4 linked regions of the Homo sapiens genome follow. The protein of the gene in region 2 purifies or fractionates together with the protein of the main gene of each other region. This does not show direct contact. Each region holds a gene or a part of one and is shown on either strand. Other genes may lie near its edges.

Evidence for each region.
Region 1: the proteins of CAPN6 (region 2) and CHRAC1 purify together in Homo sapiens (affinity purification with mass spectrometry; 2 studies listed by BioGRID and IntAct, with this or other methods). This does not show direct contact.
Region 3: the proteins of CAPN6 (region 2) and UBA6 purify together in Homo sapiens (affinity purification with mass spectrometry; 2 studies listed by BioGRID and IntAct, with this or other methods). This does not show direct contact.
Region 4: the proteins of CAPN6 (region 2) and BICD2 purify together in Homo sapiens (affinity purification with mass spectrometry; 2 studies listed by BioGRID and IntAct, with this or other methods). This does not show direct contact.

The regions. Positions count from the first base shown.
Region 1 is NC_000008.11:140,506,267-140,514,334, forward strand, and holds the start of CHRAC1 (chromatin accessibility complex protein 1), read left to right. Parts: upstream 1-5,055; 5' UTR 5,056-5,233; coding exon 5,234-5,380; intron 5,381-5,729; exon of another isoform or gene 5,730-5,759; intron 5,760-8,068. UniProt on the Homo sapiens protein: Forms a complex with DNA polymerase epsilon subunit POLE3 and binds naked DNA, which is then incorporated into chromatin, aided by the nucleosome remodeling activity of ISWI/SNF2H and ACF1.
Region 2 is NC_000023.11:111,260,443-111,267,525, forward strand, and holds part of CAPN6 (calpain-6), read right to left. Parts: intron 3,510-7,083; 5' UTR 3,495-3,509; coding exon 3,330-3,494; intron 1-3,329. UniProt on the Homo sapiens protein: Microtubule-stabilizing protein that may be involved in the regulation of microtubule dynamics and cytoskeletal organization. May act as a regulator of RAC1 activity through interaction with ARHGEF2 to control lamellipodial formation and cell mobility.
Region 3 is NC_000004.12:67,698,132-67,705,302, forward strand, and holds the start of UBA6 (ubiquitin-like modifier-activating enzyme 6), read right to left. Parts: upstream 3,025-7,171; 5' UTR 2,989-3,024; coding exon 2,918-2,988; intron 1-2,917. UniProt on the Homo sapiens protein: Activates ubiquitin by first adenylating its C-terminal glycine residue with ATP, and thereafter linking this residue to the side chain of a cysteine residue in E1, yielding a ubiquitin-E1 thioester and free AMP.
Region 4 is NC_000009.12:92,754,776-92,761,858, reverse strand, and holds part of BICD2 (protein bicaudal D homolog 2), read left to right. Parts: intron 1-7,083. UniProt on the Homo sapiens protein: Acts as an adapter protein linking the dynein motor complex to various cargos and converts dynein from a non-processive to a highly processive motor in the presence of dynactin.

The sequences.
Region 1 (8,068 bases), on a different chromosome or scaffold from region 2:
ACCAGGCTGGTCTTGAACTCCTGACCTCAGGTGATCCACCCGCCTCGGCCTTCCAAAGTGCTGGGATTAAAGGCGTGAGCCACCGCGTCCGGCCCTTTTTTTTTTTTTTGAGATGGAGTCTCGCTCTGTCACCCAGGCTGGAGTGCAGTGGTGCAATCTCGGCTCAATGCCACCTAAACCTCCCGGGTTCAAGTGATTCTCCTGCTTCAGCCTCCCGAGTAGCTGGGATTACAGGCGTATGCCACCATACCTGGCTTTTTTTGTATTTTTAGTAGAGATGGGATTTCACCATCATGGCCAGTCTGCTCTCGAACCCCTGACCTCAAATTATCCACCTGCCTCGGCCTCTCAAAGTGCCAGAATTACAAGCGTGTGTCACCACGATTGGCCCTAAAGCAAAAAATTTTTTTTGAGATGGAGTATCCCTCTGTTGCCCAGGCTGGAGTGCAATAGCGTGATCTCGGCTCATCTCAACCTCTGCCTCCTGGATTCAAGCGATTCTCCTGCCTCAGCCTCCCAAATAGCTGGGATTACAGGCTTGTGCCACCACGCCCAGCTAATTTTTATATTTTTAGTAGAGACGGGGTTTCACCATATTGGCTAGGCCGATCTCAAATTCCTGCTCTCATGATCTGCCCACCTTGGCCTCCCAACGTGCTGGGATTATAGGTGTGAGCCACCGCGCCCTGCCTAAAGCAAAATTTTTAAAGGAAAGACTGAGGCTACATCTCTGCTATCTGCCAACCAGATACAGGGATTATGCAAATTTCTTCAAGGAACACAAATCAAGTGGAGGGAGTAGCTGGGATTACATGTTGGCCAGGCTGGTCTCAAACTCCTGACCTCAAGTGATCCGCCTGCCTCAGACTCCCAAAGTGTTGGGATTACAGGCGTGAGCCACGGCGCATGGTCAAGAATTGTTTTCAAGGACATTGTTAGAGCTGGAGGCGCATGACTGAGAAGGAGGCACGTCACTGAGAAGGGCGAGGTGCTATGGAGCAAAAGGGAGGAGACGCTACCTCGAGATCAGGAAGCTGGGACTGCCCCTGGCCTGGAGCCCAGGAGCCCACACTCGCCCCCGAAGGACTCCAGGGCTGCCACTGTTGAGCAGAAACTTAGAGTGAAGCCGCTCAAAGCTCCACATGTGCAGGTGGTGATCCCTATAACCCCACTGCAGTCCTCTACCCTGCAGCCAGCAGGCAGATAAAGCTTCTTCCTCCCACCCCACAGCGATCTTTCACAGGGGCCTCCAATTTGCAGAACCTACCCAGAAGCCAGCTGACAGGGCATTCTGGGAAGTGCAGAAAACTGCCTTGCACCACCCTGGGATACCCATGAGAATGGTGCAAGGTACTGTCGTGAAGACAAAGTGAGCCCCTAAAAAACAGAGCTAACGACAGGATGAGACTAACTCACTGAGCTTTTTCCAGAGCCAGGAAGTTCTCAAGGACAACAGTCTTGAATTCTGCCGTCTTAGGTTTAAAGCTTCTTTTTTTTACATTTTTTTTCTCTTTGTAGAGATGTGGGTCTTGTTATATTGCCCAGGCTGGTCTCAAACTCCTGGCTTCACGTATTTCTCCTGCCTCAGCCTCCAAGTGATGGGATTACAGCTGTGAACCACACTGGATTTTTTTTTTTTTTTTTTTTAATGGTGAGCACTTCTTTTCCAGTATGAAGATTTCCTGCTTGGCTTCTCTCTCTACTTCTCAAATGATTAATGACTGCAAACATCACCTGCCAATTCTACAAGCTGAGCTTCTCATCCCTATTCTCTCTCCTTTCCCTCCCTCCCTTCCTTCTTTCCTTCCTTCCTCTTCTGTGCTCTTCCCTAATGTTAACCCATCCTGTTCTCACACATACTCAAAAGAGAAAGACAAGCCATACAAAAATAATAGCCAGCTAGGGAAACAAAACATCTAACAGCTTCAAAATATGTCATCACTATGGCTTGTTTCCTGTGTGGACCAAAGGACCCTCTTGTGTAGCTGCTCTTGTGTAGCAGTTCCCTGCCCCTCTTTTGTGAATGTCAACGGCTTTCCCATTTACAGAGGCAAGGCCGAGAGGGAGAGGGAGTCTGCAGCTCCACCTCCAGCCTGTGCAAACTGCCAGGAGTCGGCTCTGCATAAGGCACAGTGCCATTTGGTCATCACTCAAGAACCAGTGTGAGCTTTTAAAGTGGATCTGCTCCCTTCAAAACTTTTTTTTTTTGAGAGTCTTGCTCTGTTGCCCAGGCTGGAGTGCAGTGGTGTGATCTGTGCTCACTGCAACCTCCACCTTCTGAGTTCAAGTGATTCTCCTGCCTCAGCCGCCAATGCAGCTGAGATTACAGGTGCTTACCACCATGCCCAGCCAATTTTTCTATTTTTAGTAGAGAGGGGGTTTTGCCATGTTAGCCAGGCTGGTCTGGATTTGTTTGTTTTTGAGATGGAGTTTCTCTCTTGTTGCCCAGGCTGGAGTGCAAGTGGCGTGATCTTGGCTCACTGCAACCTCCGCCTCCCGGGTTCAAGCGATTCTCCTGCCTCAGCCTCCTAAGTAGCTGGGATTACAGGCGCGTGCCACCATGCCCGGCTAATTTTTTGTATTTTTAGTAGAGACGGGGTTTCGCCATGTTGGTCAGGCTGGTCTCGAACTCCTGACCTCAGGAGATCTGCCCCCCCTCGGCCTCCCAAAGTGCTGGGATTACAGGTGTGAGCCACCGCGCCCGGCCAAAAATAAAATTTTTGTAGAGATGCTGCCCTGTTATGCTGCCCGGGCTAATCTCAAACTCCTGGGCTCAAGCGATCTGCCTGCTTCAGCCTCCCAAAGTGCTGGGATTACAGGCATGCACCACCTCGAGTTCAAAATTCTTCATTATTTTCCATTACTCTTGGAATGAAAGTCAAACTTTTTACCCAGGGCCAGAGCCGGTCCCACCTACCTTGGTAACCACACCTCCCGTGCTCTCTGCCTCCCTCACTAAGCTCCAGACACACTGGCTTTTCAGTTCCTCAAACTGCCCAGGCATTTTCCTCGTCAGGTGTTCTCCCTAGAGCCTGACTTGTCCCGAAAGCTCATCTTGTCTCAGTCTTTCTGTATGAGTGGCTCCTTTTCTTTCTTCAGATCTGGGCACAAATGTCACTTCCCAGAGGGGCTGCCCTATCACTCGCACATGGTTTTGTTTCCTTCGTAGCTTTCAGCATTGGAGGTGTATTTTTTTTTTTTTTTTTTTTTTGAGATGGAGTCTCCCTCTGTCGCCCAGGCTGCTGGAGTGCAGTGGCGCGATCCCGGATCACTGTAACCTCTGCCTCCTGGGTTCCAGCGATTCTCCTGCCTCAGCCTCCCGAGTAGCTGGCATTACAGGTGCCCACCACCACGCCCAGCTAATTTTAATAATTTCAGTAGAGATGGGGTTTGACTATATTGGTTGGGCTGGTCTCGAACTCTTGACCTCAGGTGATCCACCCACCTTGGCCTCCCAAAGTGCTGGGATTACAGGCGTGAGCCAAAGCGCCCGGCTGGAGGTATTCTTACTTATTTTTCAGTCTCCCTCAGACCTGAAGGTCAGCTCTAAGAGGGCAGGGACCATGGCAGCCCTGCTCACTGGCTGTACCCTTGTGCCTAGCAATGCCTGACATGTATTTCTGTGCTCAATTATTTGCGCCAGGACCTCACGTCACAGTGGTGAAGAAGACACTACACTTAACACGCTCCAATTCAAACCTCTGCCAAAATGTGCTCCCTGTCTCAGTAAAGGGCTCTTTACCAAGGCCTTTCTGATATCTCAGTAAGCTGTGCTGATACTCCACAGCAGCTCCCTCTTGAAATCAGACCCCAAACCCTACCACTTCCCATGATCCTGGCAGAAGTTAAGTTGGTGGCCAGGCGCGGTGGCTTACGCCTGTAATCGCAGCACTCTGGTAGGCCGAGGCGGGCGGATCACGAGGTCAGGAGATCGAGACCATCCTGGCCAACATGGTGAAAACCCGTCTCTACTAAAAATACAAAAAATTAGCTGGGTGGCGCGTGCCTATAATCCCAGCTACTCAGGAGGCTGAGGCAGGAGAATTGCTTGAATCGGGGTGTTGGAGGTTGCAGTGAGCCGAGATCGCACTGCACTCCAGCCTGGCGACAGAGCGAGACTCTGTGTCAAAAAAAAAAAAAAAAAAAAAAGTTAAGTTGGACCCCTTACTCTTCCAAGGGCCTCCCCACTCATTCAGAGCGAATTCTGCGGTCTCCGCGGCCTTCCCTGGTCTGGCCCCTGACCATCTCCTGCCTCTCTCCTCCCAGCTGCTGTCCCCTTGGTACTGCCGGCCTCCTGAGGGCCACGTTCCTGGGTTCTCGTAATCATCTTCTACCTGGTCTCTGTGATTCCGGCCTTACGCGCACCCACGCCCTCCCAGCCGGCAGCTGCAGGGATCCTTTTAAAACTGCCCGGGACTCCACTGCTCAAACCCTACCACCACTTCCCATTTTCCTTAGAAAAAAAAATCCAACAGGACCTAGCCCCGGGCTGCCTGTCAGACCTCGGCGAGCACGCCAGGCTCTGCACACCGTCTCTCGGAGCAGTCCCGAAGAGGCCGTTCCCACCAGACTCCGGGACCTCCTCAGGGCAGCTCTTCGTCCTCCACCCCGCAGGAAGGCTCTTCTCCCAATCACCCCGCGGCGCAGCAAGCCTGGCCCCGCCGCATCGCCCGCGCTGGACTCTGCTCTTCCACCGGTCGCCTGGCTACCGGCGCAGGACGCATCCGCTGTCCGCTTGGTCGTCCCCCCTGGACTTTGTGCTTCAAGAAAGCGTCACTTTTTGCCGACGGCGGCACGCCCGGTCCTAGTACAGCGCAGGCGCTTAACACACAGCACCCAGCCACGAGGCCCGGAGTCAGAGGGCTTTGCTTGCCCATTCACAGAGCCCTCACCCGCGGATCAAAGTCGTATTCCGCGACCGCAGCCCGGAGACTCCCGGGAGCGGCGCGGTGCGCCCCGCCCCCGCCAGGCTCTCGGCTGCCGGTTCCGCGCCGGGCCTCGCACTCGGGGGCGGTGTCCGAGCGTCGGCGCATGCGCAGATCGGGGGCGCGAGGCCTCACGGAGCTCGTAGTTTCCCGGACGGGCCGCTCCCGGCCTCGCGGCCTCGCCTCCCCACACTACAACTCCCACGGGGCAGCGGGCGCGGCTCCCCGTACCCACCAGCTGGCCGGGCAGGGCAGCCACTTCGCGGTCGGGCCCGCCGGCTGCGGGCACCCGCGCGACGGGCGGGAAGATGGCGGACGTGGTCGTGGGTAAAGACAAGGGCGGGGAGCAGCGGCTCATCTCGCTGCCTCTATCCCGCATCCGGGTCATCATGAAGAGCTCCCCCGAGGTGTCCAGCATCAACCAGGAGGCGTTGGTGCTCACGGCCAAGGCCACGGTGAGGGGGCAGGGCGGGGGTGTGGGCCGCCCTTACCCCTCGCGCCCCGCCCCGCCGGGCTCTGGGCACTGCCCAGTCCCCTTAGGCCCGCGCGCCGCCGGCTGCTCTTGCCGGGCTCGCGCGCGCCCCGCTGTCCCCGTCCCACGCCGGCGCGCGCTTCGGTGCCCGCGCGCCCCCACACTTTCTCGCGCGTCTTCGCCCCGCCCACCCCTCGCCGCTCCCTCACGTTCTCCAGTTTCTTCGCCTCGCCTACCGCGCGCCTCTCCCGCCCTTTGTCGCCTTCCTTCGCTCCGCCCGCCCCTTCCTTCCGTGCGCACCTTCGCCCCGCCCACCCCACTGTCCTCCCGCCGTTTCTCTCGCGCTTCCATTCGGCAAACCCGTAAGCTCCCGCGTTCCTCTGCGCGCCTTTCGTCCCTCCCACCTGTGCGCTCACGTCCTCCCTCGCGTGCGGCGCTCAGTTTCCGGCCCTACCCGTGGGCGTCGGCGCCTAGTGGCGCTCTTCTCATTTGGGTTCTTTGGGGGCTCTTTCACCCGCGACTCCCTACTCCCGGCCTGCCTTTTTCTTGTCACTGGACTGCTTCGTGCTTTGAGGGCCCTAACTCCTCCAGTGTCCCGTGGGAGGGGCAGCCGGGCGCTTCACCCGCGACTCGAGGCTCTTTTCCCGCGCGTGCGGTGCCAGCTCCAGCGGTCCGAGGCTTTCGAGCCCTCCCGCCCGCCACAGCTGGGGCCCCTCGTCTAAGAGGCAGCACATTCCCCAACCAGAATTTAAGGAAGTCCGGGGAACTTAAGTTTTACAGCCTGCTTAGCATCCTCCTGGGTGCAAAATAGATAATTTTGTCTTTTTTTAAAAAAATTGCGTCTCGATAGTGTTAGGCCAGATGTTTTCCTGTTCTGACACTGGGCCATGTTTCAGCTACACAGTTAAATGCTTTAGCTTGTCTTGGATTCTATTTTCCAGTCCCTACTTGTAGTTAAGTATATGATGTCCCTGCAGTGTTGGACTAGAACTAAGGGAAGTGGGAAATTACAGGTTTCTTGCCCGCTTTATGTCAGAGCCATGTTTTCCTAGAGCCCAGGGAAATAATTGCATATTCAGCATTTCATCTGGGGACATTTGTATTTTCCTATACAATTTCATTCTATTGGTATTAAGGAATGAGGATTTATGCAGGCACTTCTGACCCGTTATTTTATTTTTTGAGATGGAGTTTCCCAGGCTGGAGTGCGGTGGCACTGTCTTGCTCACTGCAACCTCTGCCTCGCGGGTTCAGATGATTCTCCTGCCTCAGCCTCCTGAGTAGCTGGGATTACAGGTGCCTGCCATCACACTCGGCTAATTTTTGTATTTTTTGGTAGAGACAGGGTTTCACCATGTTGCCCAAGTTGGTCTTGAACTCCTGACCTCAGGTGATCCGTCTGCCTCAGCCTCCCAAAGTGCTGGGATTACAGGCGTGAACCATCACGCCCGTCTTTCTCATCCCTTATTAACTGAACTAGATGCATTAAAGTCAAAACCTTGAGAAAGAGGCTCAGTTCAGCCTCTGTAAAAATGAAGACTTGGCCCTGCTATAAGAACTGGGATGCAGGAGGGAGAAGATCAGTTCCGGTTGTTTCATTAGGTCTGAGGGTTGTATGTCAGTTCCTAGAATAGAAAAGTTTTGGCAAAATGTAAGCTGTGGTCACTATAGTTGTAGGTGAACCACCTTAGAAACAGTGTATGCAAATAGAAGACTAAAAAGGTATTCCTGAGCCAAATAGAATTTTTGAATGGCTTTTTGCTACTTTCTATTTTTTTTTCTTTTTTTTTGAGACGGAGTCTCGCTCTGTCGCCCAGGCTGGAGTGCAGTGGCGCGATCTCGGCTCACTGCAAGCTCCGCCTCCCGGGCTTACGCCATTCTCCTGCCTCAGCCTCCCGAGTAGCTGGGACTACAGCCGCCACCATGCCCGGCTAATTTTGTTTTTTTTTTTTATTTTATTTTTAGTAGAGACGGGGTTTCACCGTGTTAGCCAGGATGGTCTCGATCTCCTGACCATCCTTGGTCCGCCGTCCTTGGCCTCCCAAAGTGCTGGGATTACAGGCCTGAGCCACAGCTCCCGGCCGCTTCTTTCTTTTACTCTAGAGGTTGGTCATTAAACAGTTACGATTCATCTTTTTCGTAAGTTAGACATCTAAAATAAGCCTCTGGAAAATGCCTGCTTCTCCGCCAATTTTGATACTGGCTTTGCTTTCTTTCTGACCTCATGTTTTTCTTTTCCCCAGTGATTTCTTTTTTTTTTTTTTTTTTTTTTTTTGAGACGGAGTCTTGCTTGATCACCCAGGCCAGAGTGCTGCAATCTCCAACCTCCACCTCCCAGGTTCAGGCGATTCGCCTGCCTCAGCCTCCCGCTGGCTGGGATTACAGGCACCCGCCACCATGCCCAGCTAATTTTTGTATTTTTAATAGAGATGGGGTTTCACTATGTTGGCCAGTCTGGTCTCAAACTCCTGACCTCAAGTGAGCCGCCTGCCTCAGCCTCCCAAAGTGTTAGTATTACCAGCGTGAGCCACCACGCCTGGCCTCCCCAGTGATTTCTTGTAATTTAATTTGAGAAACCAAGAGAATCTGAAGTCTTAATATACTTTTAAGCCTAATTAAGGAATCAACAATGTAATTTTAAAAATTAATTTCTGTGGTACATTTTCAAAGC
Region 2 (7,083 bases):
TCAGAAAATAGCCCCAGTTAAGTGTGCAGCTACATGGCATGCCAAGGGACAAGATGTCTGTAAGTTTCGCTGCAAACCAGGATCTCAACCTTGCCAATGAGGTGGGGGAGGCCAACGGCTCATCTGGCCTTCCTGAGCCAATTCAGAGAGGCCCAGCTCTGTCTCTCAGCTTTCCTGATGGGAGGCCAGAGAACTTTGACGTGGTTCTTGACCACAGGCTTGGCCTCCACTCTGGCTGGGAAGGAATCCACAGCTTTTGGAGGAGGCTCAGATGGTGGTCCAGAACCTTGTTTTTTTCTCCTGCTCCCCACAAGAGGCCCCTTCTCCAACCATTCCAATCTATGGTAACCTCCCCTTCTTCAAAAATTCTACATGATTTACTGTCCATATGACTGAAAATAGCATTTCATACATCCAACATTCATTTCTTTTTTAACTATTTGATAGCTCAATATCCATCTCCCCAACTAGAATGGGAGTGCCTCACCACAGGCCATGTCTGTGTCTTGCACCAAGGCTGGCATAGAGTAAGTGTTCAGTAAATATTTCTCTAGTGACCCTCCCTTTGGGCTTAATAAGATTAAGCAAACACCATGCTCTCAAACGGGAGAGTGTGGAACAATTAATGGAAGTGTGGCATCAACACAGTGAAGAGGAATATGAGAACTGACTGGAGGGAAGCTACCTATTTTGGTGAAAACAGGGGACACAAACAACTAACTCTATCTATCTCCCTGATATGACAGCATGATAGAGTGAAAACTTATGCAGGCTTTGCAGTCAAACGTGGATGCAAATCCGAGCTTGTTAGCAGTCTGACCCTGAGCAAATACTTACCTTCTCTTAAAGACACAGTTTCTTTTTATATAAAGATATATAATGGGCATGTATCTACTGCTATTTTTTAAACTAGGAAATCAGAATTGCATCAAAGTAACTTTTAACATGCCTACTTTGCTAAGCCATGGTAAATAAGGGTGAAGTAAAATAATGTATAGAAAACTTCAAACACAGTATCTGGCCCATAGTACGCATGTCATGACTGTTGATTCTTTTTCCTACCCATCCCCACTGTTCAGCCTCTCTCTCTGATTTTCTCTCACTTTAGAAGGGCTATTGTTTGCCTTAGAGGCAAAATGCCGTGGTTGTTAAGACTTTTTCCTTCCCTGCTAATCCATCTAGGATTCAATCCACAGAATTTGGAGGATGAAGGCAAAGGACAATGGACTGAGCCAAGATAGAGGGGGAAGGATATGTCTAAAGACAGCCAGTACAGGAAACACTGTCTGCTTGGTGCACTTCTGGGGAATGGCTTCATGTTGGCTTGCAATTTTGCTGCCCATCGGATCTCCTCCCACCTCCTCCACCTCACCCCTATCAATCATCCCTTTTCTCTTCTGTGTCTTCAACCTCTTCTTCTTTACCATCTACTTCTTAGCCTATAAATATGTTCAAGTCTGTCCTATTTCAGAAAGACACCTACCCAATACACCTCTCTTAATTTCCTGCTTCCTTTTTAGCTACTTTTGCCCTATTGACATCTTTTCCTTCATATCCAAGCATCAGAAAAGAGGGATGCCCCTTATTTATCACCATCCATTCATAAGAGTGGCTCCCAGACAACGTATCTCTATTTTTCTCCATGTATTTTTGCAAATAAAAAAAAAAGCCTGTCTGCATACCAAAGTATTGGTTAATGAATTCTGCTCATTTCCTAGATTTTTCTTGCAGGTCAGCTAAGTGATCCGCTGGAATGTCAATAACTGCAGACACAGAAAGGCAGGAGGAGTGTAATTTTCCTTCAGACAGAGCGAACTTCTCCCAGTCTCATACTTTCAATGGTTGTCATTCTTTATAGGCAAAAACTAAGAGATATCCTTTGAGTTGCATAGTAAACAAGTCTTGATGTAACCAGTGTATCTTGACACCACATGGTAGCAACGTGCATAAACAGAAGTAGCTCTTGGCAGAACTCCATTTAGGAATTTAAGCTGTGGAAATTGCAACTAAAAGTGATAGTTGGTAAAAGGGTTACTTGAGGGAGGCAAACATTGAGATGATGCCTGAGATGGTTCCATAATAGTACACAGAAAGGAACCTCATTAAATAGGACCTGAATGTCTTCAGGATATTATGAAGTTCCAAGAACTTGCATTTCACAACATCCTTCTGTGGCCTATATACCTCATCACCTACATTGAGAAGGAGTTTAGGTACAATATCCTTCTATCCAGTTATACCCTTTAGGTATAGCAAGGTTGCAATTTATTCTCCAGACTCCATCATCCTATTGTTTTATACACTGAGCTCCTGCTCATGTAGGACTAGTGAAAGGGTTCTGAAACTTGCTTTAGAGACACAACATACAGATGATGCACAGAGAACCACAACAACTATTAATAGTTACTACTAATAGGTGGTGAAAGACCTACAATTCTACTTGAAGCCCACTTGTCCAGTTGTGGGATGATACAGATGACAGTGTCCATAGAGCAGCAAAGAAGCCTTCTTGCCCCCATGAAAAATTCATCTTCTCCCTTTAAAATTTGTCTCATTTATGCTCACTTTATAAGGAGTTTTTCTCCTCACTGGTCTGAAATTACATTTAAATTGTTATGACAGGTAACTCAGTAAAGAGGCAAGAGCATAGTTGCTTTTTGTGTTACCATATTTACTCAAATGAACTTCCAAGAGAAAATAAGGTTGGCATATCTCTCTGTTTTTTGTACAGAAATATTCATAGCATCTTTATGTGTAACAGTAAAAAATACTAAAACCAACCCCAATGCCCTTTAGTGGGTGACTAGATGAACAAATTTTGGCATATCCTTATCATAAATTACTACTCACCAGTAAAAACAAAACAACTATTGATACACAGAACACCTTGAATGGATCTTAGATTAATTTGCTTAAGGTTAAATAGCTAATCTCAAAAAGGTACAGTGTATTTTTTTGTTGTTTTTTCTAAGTAAATCTGTCAAAATTTGACTAAAATTCAGGACTCCAAGCTAGAGCCAGGAGCACAGATCCATGGAACTTTCATTATAAAGTTTTCTTTATGTGAGGTGATGAATACGTTAATTTACCTGATTGTGGTAATTATTTCACAATGTATATGTATATCAAAACATCACATTGAACACCATAACATACACAATTTTTATTTGTTAATTATATTTCAATAAAGCTGAAAAAAAAAGAAAGGAAGGAAGGAAGGTTAACTTCTAAATTGGTCTACACAGTAGGCTTTGTAAGTGAAACAGTGGATCACGTAGAAGTATGATGAAGGAGGTCAAGGAGACAGAATGTGTAAAATAGAAAGTTACCTGGGGACGTTTCCACACCACCTTTCCAGGAAGCAGTCGGTTGTAGAAAAGAGAATCATTCTCAGGCAGAAATGTTGGATCACAGAAAAGTCTGCTGTCTTTGATGCATTCCTGCTTCAGTTCCTGGTATTTCTGGTTTTTGAAGAGCTTCAGAGGAGGACCCATAGTGTTGAACTATGCCTAGAATGAGGAAAATTTTTGTCTTTGAAGGAAGAATTTCTCAGGTCTTTTAAGGGTTACCTGAGATTAGACAAACAGCCGTCATCCCAGTGACTTCTTCCCAGAGCTAGGCACTTCTAGTTTGGCTTTAAAGGAAATGTCACCATTTTCAAAGAAAGAAGTGTCCACACTCCGCAACTAATTAGTATGGGGCCTTGGGTAAGGCACCTAACCATTTTGGGTCTCAGTTTCTTTATCTGTCAAATGGGGCAATATGGGCCTTAATCTTATTGGGGAAAAATCAATAATAAAAGTAAAGATTGTGAATTAAATGTGATTCATTATAATTTAAAGAGAAGTCTTCCATTTACACCAGCAGGGAGTAGTTCAAGGCAGAGAACAACTTGAAGATAAGGGAAAAATCACTTTACTGTAGTCAGAATAATTTGGTGCCCTGGAGAGTCGCACACTTTGTGCATGAGGGGAAAAGCAGCCTCTTTCCATTCCAGCAAGTCTTTTTACACAATTTCTTCCGTCTTGTCATTTAAAGAGCTTTGCATTTTTTATTATTGGCCAGGAAGACTACTGCAAGAAACAGCTCAGCAGATGGCCTCCAAAGACAAGGAAAGACAGAAAGATTGTATGGTCTTTCTTCTTAAAAGTCTAATGTATAATCCTTTGCCTGTGATAAAAGGCAGACTCTGAAATTCAATTACACTAATTTGGTGGGCTATAGATTGTTATCCCATGGCAATACACTCTTGCTTTCTTTTCTTTAAAAAAAAAAAAAGGAGGAAAAACAAAAACCTTACATGGCTAAACAGAGAATTCATATAGTGGCTCTTCAAGCAATGTCTATCAGAGTGCCCCACACTCAAGTGCTCTTAACAACTGGTTTTTAGGAAGATAATTTGAAAGGCAAATTTGATTTTCAATAGCTTTGGGGTGATAATAGGGTTTTCAGTGCTTTTTCTTGATTCACAAAGATTTGTAATGATTTTAATGATCCTCTCCTGGCATTCAACAGTAAATAAGAATGAGATTGTGAAATTTACATGGTGTCAACTATTTCAAAATGTATTTTAGAAATAACTAAAGTCTATATTCTATAATCACAGGAGGGTTGAAACAAAAAAAACCTGACTAAGCTACAGAATGTCTGCTAAAAAATAAGGAGAATACGTTAGCACTTTAAGGAGTATCTGTGTGGTATATCTGTGAGGCAGTCGCTGTTTTATAAAAAGTGAAATATTGATCAGACCTCTCTACTAGTTCATTTTATATCCTTTCAGTATCACATTGAAATGCCTCACTGGTAAAGAAGTTTCCCCATTTGAAAACCATAACAATTTTTAATTTAAATGTTTGCAATGTTATTACAATGTTATTTGCAATGTATGTACAACAAACTTACCCTTTCTCTGAATCCAAGGAATAAGAAGCTGAGAATAACCACATTTTTTTCATAGCCTTATTTATTGGCAATTGCTTTTAAAATTGAGAGCTGTGGGGACACTGCAAAATACTGATGTCCCTTTTTTCATCAGATTTGTCTGCTCATGTGTTTTAAATATTAAAGTGTACTTCATTGTATTTGAAAGCATGGATGGTATCAGTAAAAATTTTTAGTTATGCAGCATCAGAGCCAACCTGAATGTTTGCCCAGACTCCTTTCTGGAGGCTGTTACAAATGGATCCCAATTTTCTTGTGTGCTCAAACTTACAACAAACACTACTGCGCCTCTTGCTTTCCCTAGAAGGTTTGGTGAATTGCCAGAGCCTGGGGACTGTAAATGTGGAAAAGCCTGGGGCAATTAGAATATTTAGTTTGCCAGAACCTCCTAGTCCCTGGACATTCTGGATAAATGAGTATTTCCTGTTCTGCCTTCAAAGGTCTTCCTTACTACTCGGTCAAATGGCAAGGCAGGCAAGATCCTGCAAAAGGAATCCCTGTTATAAAGAGGGCCTGTGTACAGACAGAAGTAGCACCAATTGAAAGGAAAATCAGGTTTGATTTTTAAAGCCCATGTGATCCCAATAGACTCTTTCAGAGGCAGAATGTACAGCTCACATGGATAGATTACAGCTTGACGGAACACCTTTTGGGTCAGGGTGCCTGTGTTCTGGGGACACACAGTAAATAAAGAAGAGCAGACTATGAGCCTGAACTTCCACTACAGTACAACTGTAGTCCCAAGTCCTCTCGGACTTGGAGAGTAGAAGTGACCTTCATGTGGAGGTTGCAGTGAGCCGAGATCGTGCCATTGCACTCCAGCCTGGGCAACAGAGCGAGACTCCGTCTCAAAAAAAAAAAAAAAAAAAAAAAAAAGTGACCCGCATTTCTGACTGGGCAACAGAACTGTGATCCATTTGCTCTGTGACCTTGTTCTCTTTGTGCCTCAAATTTTTCATCAGGAAAGTGAGGTTATCTACCCTGCCCCTCTTACACCATGGGTGTACCTAATGAGATGGTTGGTGTAAGAGGAATTTTGAATAAGTAGAAAGTGATCCATAAATGCAAAATATACACTGAAGCCCTCTCATTGCCTAGCATTGAGCTGGGCACACAAATATTGTTCAGAAAATGTTTGTTGAACAGATAAATGTCTTATGTGGAGAATTAGTGATTGCATGGCAATTTCTTGTTTGAAATGTGCATTTTACATTTTAGTTCGGGTTCTCATCATAGCAGTCATGTTTAATGAGATTATCTGTGCCCTTCATTTTGTATCTGCAGAAATGGCAGCTCAGAGAAGCAGTAGCTAGAAAATGGCAGAGTTAACTCAAATCCAGGTTCTGTGCAATGCCAGATTCAGTGTGCAGCTTTCCATCACACCACACTGCTTCTTTTGGTCACTGCCTTCTTAGAGAAAGGATTTTTTAGTTCAAATGAGGAAATCCTCCAAAGCAAACATGATACTCAACTTTGAGGCATTCTGCCTAGAATTTATTGCCATGGTAGACATTGAAAAGGTTCTTTATTTTCATGGTTTGATGTTCATGGGAGAATCTGAACTCTTTACATCGGCGGGTTCATCATTTAAACATCAGAATACTTTTGGAAACCCAGAAATTTGTAAGTTGAGTTTGTCATAAACAACTTACTCTGTTGGAACGGATGAGTGCAGAGAAGGGAACACTCCCTCCTTTCTGTTCTATTGCACCCGATGGCGATGGGGAAGGGAGAGCCCTTACGTTAAAGATCACATATTAGGAAAGTCGGGAGACAAGATAAAAGTTAGGGCTTTGAGTATAAACCCAGGGATTTGAATATAAACCAAGGAGAGCCTCTAGCTAACAAAGGCAATGTGGACATTTGAGAAGAGGGACCCTGTGGCCTGAGGGCTAGTGGAATGAGCGGTTGGGTGAGGCAGAGTGTGGTGGGGCTTAGCATTGAGGTAATGGTCTTAGGCAATATTATTATAATTCAGATCCACCACTTTGAGAAAGAATATGAGGACAACCGTGTCTGCCAAGGCAAAGGATAGGAGCGGGCCCAGAGTGCAGAAAGTTGAGAATTGCCAGGGAAGTTGAGGGAGACTGCCACGTAGAATACAAGGCTGCAGTTTAAAGAGAGAGGTATTTTTTTTCTACT
Region 3 (7,171 bases), on a different chromosome or scaffold from region 2:
ATCTCGGAATAGCTGACTTCTTGTCACTTAAGCCTCTATTAAAATATTGTGTCACAAATACCACACACCTCATTCCTGATCACCCTATCAATAAAATGGCTACTCTTATCCTTAGGTTGCTGCCTAACTCATTAACCTGTCAGTTTCTTCAAATCACTTACCGTTAACTGTCTGCCACTACTACCAAAAAAATGTATGGTCTGTTAAAAACTCACTACTGTATTCCAAATACCTAAAACAGTACCAGGCATTTAATAATAATAGATAACCCTGTGCTACATATTTAAGTGCTTTAGATGTACTTATTCAGTTAACCCTTACAACAACCTTGTCCAAACAGTGGGCAAGCACTATTGCTATCTCCAACGAACAGATGGAAAAAAGAGGCTGAGGGAGGTTAACTTAAAATTTGCCCAAAGTCACAGAGCAGGCAAATGGCACTGCCAGGATCTGAACCCAGGCAGTCTAGCTCTTGACTACCACACATACTGCCTACTGTTTCTGATATTAGACATAAAGGAAACACTTAAAAAAACCTGTTAAATGGGATGGGCGCGGTGGCTCATGCTTGTAATCCCAGCACTTTGGGAGGCCAAGGCAGGCGGACCACCTGAAGTCAGGAGTTCGAGACCAGCCTGACCAACGTGGTGAAACCCTGTCTCTACTAAAAATACAAAAATTAGCCAGATGTAGTAGCAGGCGCCTGTATTCCCAGCTACTTGGGAGGCTGAGGTGGGAGAATCGCTTGAACCCGGGAGGAGGAGGCTGCAGTGAGCCAAGATCCCACCACTGTACTCCAGCCTGGGTGACAAGAGCAAGACTCTGTCAAAAAACAAACAAACAAAACAAAACAAAAAAACCCTGTTAAATGAATAAATTTTAAAGGAAAAAAACTAATCTAAATATGCAAATCTGACAAAGTATACTTATTATAGTAACATATTATTTATAGCAGTGCTCGTCCCATTTTCACAGCATGGCCTTCAAAAAACGTATCTGTACTAAACACTGGCAAGCAGAGATAATTCCCAGGTACAGGGAACCAGTCTGGAGCATTTGGAGCTGAACCACTGTGAGAGCTGAGATCAATATACTGGCAGAAGTGGAGGCCATTCCTAGTTCTGAGAAGCTCTAGTTGTCAATTAAAAGATTCTAAAAACAATGCGATGGCATCAAATTCAGGCTTGGAATCCAACTTTCTAGTCCTAGCATTGATAAATAAGCCAAAGAATTTGTAAACAAAGGTAATTAAAATGTTATCATTTATCTCACCAAACACTGGCACATATCAAATGATACCAGCTTCTAGCTAATTAAACGGATAGCTATTAAAAAAACTGATTCCAATTACCAAGGCAAATCAGAAGATAGCTGTGTTCTAAGAGATCACCTACCTAATAAAAAACACACACATACACAATATACCCTGTTTGGGCATTGTAACAAAATATAAAAATTAACAAAATTTGTTTCTTTTCTTTTTTTTTGAGACAGGGTCTCTCTCTGTCACCCAGACTGGAGTGCAGTGGCACGATCTCGGCTCACTGCAGCCTCGATCTCTCTAGACTCAAGCGATCCTCTCATCTTAGCCTCCCGAGTAGCTGGGACTACAGGCGTGCATCACCTACGCCCAGCTAATTTTTTTGTATTTTGTAGAGACGCGGTTTCGCCATGTTGCCCAGGCTAGTCTAAGAACTCCTGAGCTCAAGCGACCCGCCTGCTTCGACCTCCCAAAGCGCTGGGATTGCAAGCGTTTGAGCCACTGCGCCCGGCCAAAGTTTTTTATTATCTACTTTCCTATCATTTTATCCCTAGTACACTTTCACTTGCTGTTTTCCTTGCATGGCGGGGGCAATAGGCCTGGTGGGTAAATCTGAATAAAAACGAGAACAGCTGCAGTCTAACTAGCTCTGCCACTTAATGGCGTGACTGGCCCTTTTCAGAAAGTTGTGCCTCACTGGAATGTTTCAAAAATATGTAAAAATAATATGATCTATAAGACAATCAAAAACGCTTCAAATAAGGCGCGGGTTATATTACATAATATCCCTCCACTCTGGCAGTGTTGGCAATGGCAGACAACACCATGAAACTGAAAGCATCCCTTCAGTCTGAAACTGGCGAAAAGGCTACAGGTTTACAAAGTCTCACATCAGCTGAAAATAATACATCCATCAATTCTATCTTTGGCATGGTGTATTCTGACAGTGGTGGATAGAATGTAACCACTTGCTTTATTAATTATGAGATGATTGAAAGAGGAACTACTAACCAAGAAATTGGTAAAGGCCTAGCACAAATATTTTCCCCCTAATTTTACAGGGGCGGGAAAGACCTGAAGAACTTCAAAACCAAGTGGGAAATAAGAATGGGTAACTTGTGTATTTTTTTTTCCTGGCTTTTTTTTTTTCCTTCTTCCGAAGTCAACAAAGGCCTCAGGGTGTCCAGATTGCTACTGATTCATTCTTACCAAGTTCCTTCTGGTAATAGTTTTCAAAAGAGGATCTCAGTGGAGGTGCACAGTGGCGCTCCTAGCTTTCTTTTTACGGAAAGGAGGAAAGGTGCTTGGCACCAGTCGGGGAAGCTCACGCCAAGTGACCGAGACCAGAACTCGCTCTCGACCGGAGCCCCCCAAGTCTGGTGACTTGGAGGAAGGAGGATCCCGAATCCCAGCCAGAACTGAGAAAGCCCTCAAAGGTGCGGAAAGGGGACTTTTCCCTCAGGAAAGCCGGCAACAGCAGAGGCCCTAGCCCACGTCGCCACACCCACTCCGCGCGCGCCCCTCGCCTCCCAGGGCCGGCTCTGCTCGGCCCCGCGGCCTCTCGGGCGCCCCCAGCCCGCCGGAAAGAAAGAAGCAGAAACCCGGAGCCTGGGTCCCACCCGCGACCCCTCACCTTCGCCCTTCTCGTCCTCTCACCTGCCAGTCCCCCAGGAAGAACAGGACGCCTCTTCCCCCTGATGGGCGGCCACAGGCTCGGATCCTTCCATTGCCGCCTGAGACACCGCCGCCGGCTACTGGAAGGTAGGAAGGGGCGGGACCGTGGGGGGGTCAAGGGGCGGGCGGAGACGTCATCAGAGGGGGCGGGCCTGGGGAAGCTAGGAGCCCGGCAGCGCCTTCCCGTCAACCCTAGGGGCGTCCTGGTTTCCGGTTTGGGTGTGGCCGCATGGCGTGCTGTGGTGCAGGTGGCCGAAGGGGGCGTTACTGTTGCGACTGGCATCCGCATCCGGCAGATGTAGATGGAACCAAAGTCCAGAAGTTACGCGTCACCCTTGCTCTACAGCCAAACATGCAGGACTCTAGTAACCCGCGAAATGATGGGATAGCGTTGCAAATCCTTAAAAGAGTCTTAACGGTAAGAAGAGGAAACAGCTTTATTTTATAAATAAACTGAAGGCTGCTAATAGCTCCAGATTGTCAGTGAGGGGATACCACTTAAAGATGTTATACATTTAATAAATAATTTTGGGAGTCCACTACATGTGAGGCGCTGCCTCAGATTTAATAGAATCATGTGACTTTTAGTGCCATAGATGTCGTTAGATCATCCAGTTTGGTCCCTTAAATTTGTGGGTAAGGGAAAGGAACTTCCGGTCAGTGCAAGTGACTTGGTCAAGGTTATAGAGCTAGTCACTGTTAGATTACCAGAACACATATCTAAAAAGTTCTCATATAATTCTTTTTCATTTACTTCCGTGTCACCTTTCTTAGAAAGCAAAAATGAGTTGGACACAATAACATTAGGATTTGTCTTTCACTAAATAACACTGTATATTTGAATAAACATCTGCAGGATTTTTAAAATTAGCATATACTTTGGGTATTATGTAATTTTCTGTGATGTATCATATTTTTAATTAGAAATTTTTCCTCTCATATGGAGATGAGGGTCCAGGCAAAACTGTATTATCCTTCGTGCCCTCTATTCTCTTCAAAATTGCACATCTTAAAATACCTGGAAGCTTTATGTTGCTCACCTATAGCATTATCCGTGTTCCTCAATCCAGTTGTGAACCTTTTCCACATTAAAATGTTCTTGATCTGTGTTCTATTCTTTCAAGGCTCTGCTCTAGCACTAAGATAATGCTACAGGACTGAAGATAATGAAAAAGATTGAAGAAAGCAGAAACAGAACAAAAATCAGATTATTTCAAAGTTTCTTTCCTTGTAAAGGTTAAAACAGAGCATACTTCCTTATTATGCCCACTAGGTTAACTAGAATCTCCTGTTTTTTTAAAAAAAACTGGCTCATTTTTTCAAAATCCACTTTAATTACATGGTGCTTAGCACAAGCAACTCCATTCTGGTTTGATCTGATGGGGCCTAGTGTAGAAGGCTAGGCCAAAACAATGGCCTGCCATTACCCACGCTTCTTCATATTTTAACATCCATGAATAGAGGATGAATTTTTAAAAAATAAATACAGAAAACGATGCATCTTAAAATTGAGGGCATGTTAGATTTGATAAAATATGGTGTGAATTATTTCAGGCATGTAACAAGCAACCAGATTTAACAGATTTTAATGTTTTGTCACATATGTAAAATGGGAAAGAAAACTAGGCGATCACAGCTTTTTGACAGTGAGGCTTTATGTCATAAGAAAGTAGAATGACATATTGAGGAAACTTAAGGGAAAAATATGTAGGCCAAAGATTTTACATTCAGCAAAACTAATATACAAAAGGTACAAACTGTTATCAACAATTGATATATCAATTTGGTGAGACTAGTGTTTTCATGAGCCCCTCCTTAATAATTAATTGGAGAAAGTGTCTGACAATCAGAATTATTACAGAAACATTGATCTAAGGATTGACTCGGTTTCTTTACAGCAAATCATAATCTGTTGCATTTATTAGCTTTTGTGTTTCTTGTAGTTTATTCTTTATTACTAATTCTCCTGAGTTCTGTCACCTCATTTCTGAGGTTTTTCTAATTCAGAATCAAGTTCTTCCATATCTTTTATCATTTCTCTAATGTCATTTAGCTAGTTTCAAAATAATAAATTGTTTTGTAGTGCATCTTTCAGGCATGTTTTTATTATCTTTGATGATGATGTTATATTCCTTATTCTCTTCACATAATAACTGCATGGATTTGAACTTGATGCTTTTTTTGTTGCTCTTTTTTTTTTTTTTTTTTTTTTTTTTTTGAGACAGAGCCTTGCTCTGTTGCCCAGGTTGGAGTGCAGTGGCGGGATCTTGGCTCACTGCAAGTTCTGCCTCCCGGATTCACGCCATTCTCCTGCCTCAGCCTCCCGAGTAGCTGGAACTACAGGCACCTGCCACCACGCCCGGCTAATTTTTTGTATTTTTAGTAGAGACGGGGTTTCACCGTGTTAGCCAGGATGGTCTCGATCTCCTGACCTCGTGATCCACCCCTTGGCCTCCCAAAGTGCTGGGATTACAGGCGTGAGTTATTGCTCATTTTTATGTGAAATTGGTGTTCCTGAACTAATATGAGACAGGCTTCTTAGCCCAATAAGCCTAAGTTTATCAGGAACAAAACTGTATTCCAAGAAAGTCAGGTATATTAGTCTGTTTTCACACTGCTATAAAGAAATACCCGAGACTGGGTAATTTATAAAGGAAAGAGATTTAGTTGACTCACAGTTCCACATGGCTGGGGAGTCCTCAGGAAACTTAAATCATAGCAGAAGGTGAAGGAGAAGCAAGACATATCTTACACGGTGGCAGGAGAGAAGTGAGATCGTGGGAAAACTGCCACTTTTAAAACCATCAGATCTCATGAGAACTCCCTCATTATCACAAGAATAGCATGGGGGAACTGCCCCCATAATCTAATCACCTCCCACCAGGTCTCTCCTTGCACACATGGGAATTAAAATTTGAAGTGAGATTTGGGTGGGGACACAGAGCAGACCATATCATCAGGTTTACTGGCTCATTGCAAGGAGGGAGCCCACATTCCAGAAGAACCATGGGGTACCTCACCAACAGAGGAAGAGATAGATTTATTGTAGGAATTTGGGGAAGTATGGAGTTTAGAAGGAATTGAAATGAAGTAGTGCTTTGATAGACTCAAAAGAAAGCAAGGCTGTTTGTAAAGAATTCTACACTACATCTAAACTATTACTAATGGCAAAAACTGCAATTACTTTTGCACCAACGTAATACAAGATGGACCCAGGGTTCTGTTTTTTGGAAATTGCAAAGTTCTGCCTCTCAGAAGTAGAAACTATTTCTCTGTGTCAATGTGACTTTAGATATTCTAGCCAAGAGTGAGATATTTCAATCTTAATAATAGGATTTAAACAGCAGAGTTTTTGACAATCTTTTGATATTGTCATAAATGTTCTATGATTTTAGAGAAAAGGGCATTGTGTGAGTAAAAAATCAGTTACTCTAAGGGTGTGTGTGTGTGTGTGTGTGTGTGTGTGTGTGTGTGTGTGTTTGAGACATTTTAAAGCATCTTCCAGAGAGAAATAGTATTTTCTGTTAATTTCACAGCTGGCTTTATTTATGCCTGTTATCCCATAGCTGATGAATGGCAAAGCAGATTTTTACTTTCTTATTCTATGCTTATTTGCTTTCTCACAGGTTTTGGGAAAACTTTTCTAATTTCAGAGAATTCCCTTTTCTGTTGCTTTTGTGTAATGTTCAGCAATATTATGGTTTTATTTCCTTTTTAAATTAATACATACATAATAAGCATATATTTATGGGGTATTTTGATATTTGCGTACAAGGTATAATGATAAAACCAAGGTAATTGTGATATCCATCACCTCAAACATTGTTTATTTCTTTGTGTTAGGAACATTTCACATCTTGCCTTCTAGCTATTTTGAAATATATGATAAATTATTGTTAACTATAGTCACCCTCTAGTGCTATCGAACACTAGAAATTGTTTCCTCTATCTAATTGTATTTTTGTACCCATTACGCAACCTTTTTCATCCTCCTTACCCCCAACCTTCCCAGCCTCTGGTAACCATCATTCTACTCTCTACTGCCATGAGATCCACTTTTTTAGCTCTCACTTATGAGTGAGAATATGTGCTATTTGTCTTTCTATGCCTGGCATTTCACTTAACATAATGACCTCCAGTTCCATCTATGGTGCTTCAAACTACATGATTTCATGTTTTTGTGTAGATGACACATTTTTAAAATCCATTCATCTGTTGATGGACACTTAGATTGAT
Region 4 (7,083 bases), on a different chromosome or scaffold from region 2:
TTTGCCTAATCATTCTGCTAGTGATTTCTTGAGCCTGACTCAGTTAAGACCATATCTGTCCCCGTTCCCACTGTGCCCTTTCCCTTCCTCTCCCTGGAATGGTGGGGAAGAGAATTAGATGGGCTTTGGTCAGCAACCTGGTGTTCCTGGTCCTGCGTGGCCGTGAGACACTTTGTTCTGTGTTCTTAGCTGTAGCTTTAAGAGGACAGGTGTGCTGAGGTGGCAGCTCCTGCCTTCAGGGCACAGGCAGGGACTGTAGCTAGGTGGGCTAAGGCTAGGTGCCCATGTGGTCCTCATGGTCAGGGGAGGGTAATGGGGGAGGTCTGAGAACAGTCTTGACTCCACCTGAGCTCAGGCTCAGAGAGGAGGTCTGGACACCCTCACTGCCTTGGTGTGCCACCTTGGTGTCATAGTGTCAAGCTCTGGAGCACCATTGTCCTTGTCTGAGAGGTGCACGTGGGTGGAATTGGGTGTTGGACTGGGCACAGCACCCAACACGCAGCAAGTGCTTCGTAGGTCTTCTGCGGACTGAATCTCATGCCTCACTCAGGTCTCTGTCTCCTTGCTGCTGCACCTGCAGCTTCTCCCCGTTCTTATCCTTGTCCCTGCTCAGTCTCAAGTGGCTTCCATTGCCACCTCCCAAGGGCTGCCCTAAGCATTGTCTCAGGCCCCTACAGCCTGGCTTGGGACTGCCCTACCTCTCCTGTGCCCACATTCACCCTTTGTCTTAGAAGTCCCACCTGCCCTTCAAGCTTGGGTGTCTCTAAAATTCCCCTGCCTGCTGCCTTCTGGACTTGCTGAGCCCTGTTCCCAGCACCTGGGCAGCTGCAGGAAGTGGGGGCAATAGGGTGATTGGCAGAGGACCCTCCAGGAGGTTCCTCTGCAGAGTTACTGGGGGTGAGGCCCAGCCTCTTTGATTGTTTGCTTCCAGAGCAGGAAAAGTCCTGGTCTTGGTTAAAGCAAGTGTGGGATTCTCCCATTCGTCTGATAACCCCTGAGAACATTGTTGTGTCCATTTCTGAACAGAAGGCTGTTGGGAGCAAGGAGGCTCTGGGAGACCCAAGGGCCTTTCAGGGGGCTGGGTGGTGGCAGTGGTCTGCTGTTGGTATGAGGAAGCCTGGCTTGGGTGGGAGCTGGGGCCCTGTGAATACCTGAAGCACAGATGGGTCTGACAGTTGGGGAGAGGCAGCTATAGGCATCCAAAGATGATGACCATGTGGCTACACTGTTGTCACTAATTGTTGGGCAATTCTCTCCCCGCTGGGCCTCTCTTTCCCCACTTTTAGAATATGGGGCAGGGGGTCATGAAGGAATCTTTAGGGACCCTTACACTTTTAAAAATGTCTGAAACTCCCACATCGAGCCCTGGTGCTGTTTCTTCCTGTAGGGCCTGGCGACTGGGCACTTGTGTATCTCAATCATCCTGGGACCTGGCCAGGGAATCTGCCCAGCCCTAGGCATGCGGATGGTGTGCTCCAGGCCAGCCCTGCCAGCATGTGGAGGCGTGGACCTGGCCACCCTCCATGGGATTCAAGGCAGGCACAGCTGTGATGGAGCAGCTCGTCTTTGGGGATGCCAAGCGAGCATGCTTTGTGGCTTAGCAGGTGGATCCAGAGGAAGGCCAGGCCCAGTGCTGGGAGCCCCTGGGCCCCTGGGGGTGCCTGGCACCACCTGAGCAGGACCGACTGTATATGATGTCTGTCCCTGTGAACTCCATACTGACTCCACAGGGGGAGTCTGGGCCCTGCCTGGTCTCCCAGGAGCTTGCGGCCCTGGATGAGCCGCTGCCTGTCTGGGCCGTGATAGGTTAATGATGATGCCTGTTACCTTGGCCCAGTGCTCTGTGAGCCCCCAAGGTCAGGGAGTGGTGTCCCTGTGCCCTTGTGTCTGAGCATCCGGCCCAGGTCCATATAGGATTCCTGCTAGGTCTCCCCTGTCACTTAGGGACCACAGTCCCTTCCTTTGAGGGAGGAGATCAGTTTCTTCTTTGTCAGTTTTGGGCATCCCCCAGTCAGTCAGACCTGCTTCCCCACATAGGTGGACCAGATGAAACTGTTACACACATCGGGGGTAAGAAAGATTTGGTTTCTTCTCAGACAGTACACCAGCTGTTTGAGGTGGTGGTGGCTGGTGGCCAGGGCTGGCCAGGACTATGCAGGCTTTGACAGGTAAAGCATTGGCCTTAGACCCTGTGTTGTCCAGTGTTCAGAGTGTGGCCTCTGAAGCCGAACTCTGGAGCAGGAGAGGGCCCAATGTGGCTGCCTAGCTGCCTCCTTGGGCTCAAACCCTGCTGTCCCAAGCTGGGCTCTGCTCTGCTGTGGGAGGTGGATGGAGAGATGGGGACTGAGTGGCAGGCAGGCTCCCCTTGCCACCCTCAGAGCATTGCAGGCCAGGGTTAGGGTTAGGAGGAGGTCACTGGGGGCCCAGCTTCTTTTTTAGAAGCTACTGTGTTTTAAAAAATCATACATTCACTTTAAGAACAGCAGAAAGTGGAGAGAACAGTGTCAATAGGACCTGTGTAGATGGCGCAGGACAAATGTGGGGAGCACTGGGTGTTTCTCTCTGCCAGCTCTTCTTCCCTTGTGAGTGTGTGATGTGTACAAGACACCATCAAACACAGGGGAAAGGCTTTGTGCATCTGTAATAGTTGTTTTTTGTTAAAGTTAGTTTGTTGCTACTCTGAGATACATAAAAGCAGGTTTAATTCAAGTAGATAAAGACAGGAAGGTTTCTGTGGATCCAGAGGTTCTGTGGTACTTCTAACTTATACTGTTGTGTTACTATATGAAATAATTGTCATGGTTTGCTTTTTATAGTTGGCTTTTTACTTTTTAATTTATTATTATTATTATTTATTTATTTTGGTAGAGTCAGGGTCTCACTGTGTTGCCCAGGCTGCTCTTGAACTCCTGGGCTTGAGCGATCCTCCCGCCTTGGCCTGCAAAGTGTTGGGATTAGAGATGTGAGCTACCACGCCTGATCTATAGTTTGCTTTTTTTTTTTTGAGACGGAGTTTCGCTTTTGTTGCCCAGGCTGGAGTGCAATGGCGCGATCTTGGCTCACCACAACCTCCGCCTCCCAGGTTCCAGCGATTCTCCTGCCTCAGCCTCCCTAGTAGCTGGGATTATAGGCATGTGCCACCATGCCCGGCTAATTTTTTTTGTATTTTTAGTAGAGATGGGGTTTCTCCATGTTGGTCAGGCTGGTCTCGAACTCCTGACCTCAGGTGATCCGCCTGCCTTGGCCTCCCAAAGTGCTGGGATTACAGGCATGAGCCACCACGCCCAGCCTTTTTTTTTTTTTTTTTGAGACGGAGTCTTGTTATGTTGCCCAGGCTGGAGTACAGTAGCTCGATCTTGGCTCACTGTAACCTCTGCTTCCCGAGTTCAAGTGATTCTCATGCCTCAGCCTCCTGAGTAGCTGGGATTACAGGTGCGCGCCACCACACCTGGCTAATTTTTGTATTTTTAGTAGAGACGAGGTTTCTCCATGTTAGCCAGGCTGGTCTCGAACTCCTGACCTCGGGTGATCTGCCTGCCTCAGCCTCCCAAAGTGCTGGGATTACAGGCGTGAGCCACTGCGCCTGGCTGCTTTACTCATTATTTACTTATTTATTTATTTATTCATATTATTATTATTATTATTATTATTATTTGAGACAGAGTCTAGCTCTGTTGCCCAGCGTGGAGTGCAGTGGCACGATCTCGACTCACTGCAAACTCTGCCTTCCAGGTTCAAGCAATTCTCCTGCCTCAGCCTCCCGAGTAGCTGGGATTACAGGAGCCCACCACCACGCCCGGCTAATTTTTGTATTTTTAGTAGAGATGAGGTTTCACCATGTTGGTCAGACTGGTCTCAAACTGTTGACCTCAGATGATCCACTCGCCTCAGCCTCCCAAAGTGCTGGGATTACAGGCGTGAGCCACCGCGCCCAGCCTTTACTCATTTTTTAAAGCCACCTTCTTTGTTGGATGTTTCCACATAATCAAAGGTGGAGAGAGTAATAGAGTGAGTCCATGTATGCTCCTGCCCTGCACCTGCAGTTTGCAGCTGTGGCCGGTCTTGTTTCTACCGCAGTTCATCCTGTGTAGCTGTGTCTGTAAGTATATCAGTTGTTTTGCTAAGAAAATAGAATCTTTTCTTTTTTTTTTTGAGATGGAGTCTCACTCTGTCACCCAGGCTGGAGTACAATGGCGCGATCTCGGCTTACTGCAAGCTCCGCCTCCTGGGTTCACACCATTCTCCTGCCTCAGCTCCCCCCCGCCCCCCCGCAGTAGCTGGGACTATAGGCGCCTGCCACCATGCCCAGCTAATAGAAAATAGAATCTTTTCTTACAAAACTTAACCATTGTTGAACTTTCACACCTAAGAAACTAACAAAAATTCTTTAGTGTCATCTGTTGTCCAGTCAGTGTTTGGATTTCCCCAGTTTGGCTCATAAATTTCATTTTACAGTTACTTTGTTTCTTCAGAAGCCAAGCAGGATCTGCAGGTTGCATTTGGTTGAAGGCCTTCTCAATTTTTTTTTTTTTTTTTTTTTTTTTTTGGAGACAGTCTCGTTCTGTCGCCCAGGCTGGAGTGCAGTGGCGTGATCTTGGCTCACTGCAATCTCTGCCTCCTGTGTTCAAGCAACTCTCCTACCTCAGCCTCCAAAGTAGCTGGGACCATAGGTGCACACTGCCACACCTGGCTAATTTTTTGTATTTTAGTAGAGGCGGGGTTTCACCATGTTGCCCGGGCTGGTCTTGAATTCCTGAGTTCAGGCAATCAGTCTGCCTCGGCCCAGCAAGGTGCTAGGATTACAGACCTTGTCATTTTAAAGACAGCGCCATGTGTGGCCTGTCCTGTCCCCTTTCATACTGCACTGGCATTAGCCCTGGCTACTCTATTTTTATGCTGTGGAGGGTGCCGGTAGGCGGAGATTCCCACTTTATCTGCCCCTGCCAGACACCTTACTCTTGTCTTTCTCTTTTATTTCCTTTTTTTTTTTTTGAGACGGAGTCTCACTCTGTTGCCCAGGCTGTAGTGCAGTGGCGCGATGTCTGCTCACTGCAACCTCTGCCTCCCGGGTTCAAGCGATTCTCCTGCCTGAGCCTCCTGAGTAGCTGGGATTACAGGCGTGCACCACCACGTCTGGCTAACTTTTGTATTTTTAGTAGAGACAGGGTTTCATCCTGTTAGGCAGGTCTTGAACTCCTGACCTCATGATCTGCCTGCCTCGGCCTCCCAAAGTGCTGGGATTACAGGCGTGAGCCACTGTGCCTGGCCTCTCTTTTCTTTTTTAAAATATTAGCCAGGGGCCGGGCGCAGTGGCTCACGCCTGTAATCCCAGCACTTTGGGAGGCTGAGGCAGGCGGATCACGAGGTCAGCAGATCGAGACCATCCTGGCTAACACGGTGAAACCCCGTCTCTACTAAAAATACAAAAAATTAGCCGGGCTTGGTGGCAGGCACCTGTAGTCCCAGCTACTTGGGAGGCTGAGGCAGGAGAATGGCATGAACCCGGGAGGCGGAGCTTGCAGTGAGCCGAGATCGTGCCACTGCACTCCAGCCTGGGCAACAGAGCGAGACTCCGTCTCAGACAAAAAAAAAAAAAAAGTAGCCAGGGTGCCTCCTTCAGCTGATGCATCATGGCTTGGCTCTTGCATTGCTGCATTGTCATCACCTATTCTGGTTCATCTGTCGCCCCAGCCTTTACTGTGGAGCTCTGCCCACCTGAGGTGATGTTGTCATCTAGTGGGTGTAGATGCCAAGCCCTTCTAAACCAGAAGGGAGGAACTAGTATTGTCACTGTCCTACCATTGAGGGTGCTGAGGTCATAGTGAGGACCACTCATACTCTTACTAGCATGGCAGTGGACTCAGCCATTCTTGGCTTGACTTCTGTGACCTGGAGCCAGTCTCTCCCCTCTCTGGGCCTCAGTTTCCTTGTTTTAGGCCAGTGCATTCCTGACGCCCTTGGAGGTGGATCAATTTCTCCCTCTAGTGACAGCATCATGGCGGGCTCAGGCCCAGGACGCAGCTGCTTTGCAGGCATGTGTTGCCTGCTGCCTGGGCTCCCCATCTGCTTTGCTCTGCCCTTCTTCCTCACACCCATGTTCCCTCAGTACCACCCTCACAACATGCTGGGGTGTAAGGGCTGGTTGATGACAAGCATGTCCATAAGCCTAGGGGATTCCTTGGGTGTCCTAAAATGTGACCTAAGATAATTATCGGGGAACATGCCCCGATATTCACGTAAGTTCTTTTCATTTTCCTTAAGTGTCGGCCAGCTTGAGAAATAAAGGGACAGAGTACAAAAGAGAGAAATTTTAAAGCTGGGCATCCGGGGGAGACATCACATGTCGGTAGGTTCCGTGATGCCCCACAAGCCGCAAAAACCAGCAAGTTTTTATTAGGGAGTTTCAAAAGGGGAGGGAGTGTGCGAATAGGTGTGGGTCACAGACATCAAGTACTTTACAAGGTAATAGAATATCATGAGGCAAGTGGAGGCAGGGCAAGATCACAGGACCACAGGACCGAGGCGAAATTAAAATTGCTAATGAAGTTTCGGGCACCATTGTTATTGATAACATCTTATCAGGAGACAGGGTTTTGAGATCAACTGGTCTGACCAAAATTTATTAGGCGGGAATTTCCTCTTCCTAATAAGCCTGGGAGCGCTATGGGAAACTGGAGTCTATCTCACCTCTGCAATCTCGACCATAAGAGACAGGTATGCCCCAGGGGGGCCAGTTCAGAGACCTACCCCTAGGTGTGCATTCTCTTTCTCAGGGACGTTCCATGCTGAGAAAAAGAATTCAGTGATATTTCTCCCATTTGCTTTTGAAAGAAGAGAAATATGGCTCTGTTCTGCCCGGCTCACCAGTGGTCAGAGTTTAAGGTTATCTCTCTTGTTCCCTGAACAATTGCTGTTATCCTGTTCTTTTTTTCAAGGTGCCCACATTTCATATTGCTCAAACACACATGCTGTACAATTTGTGCAGTTAATGCAATTATTACAGGGTCCTGAGGTGACATACATCCTTCTCAGCTGACAGGATTAAGAGATTAAAGTAAAGACAGGCATAGGAAATCACAAGGG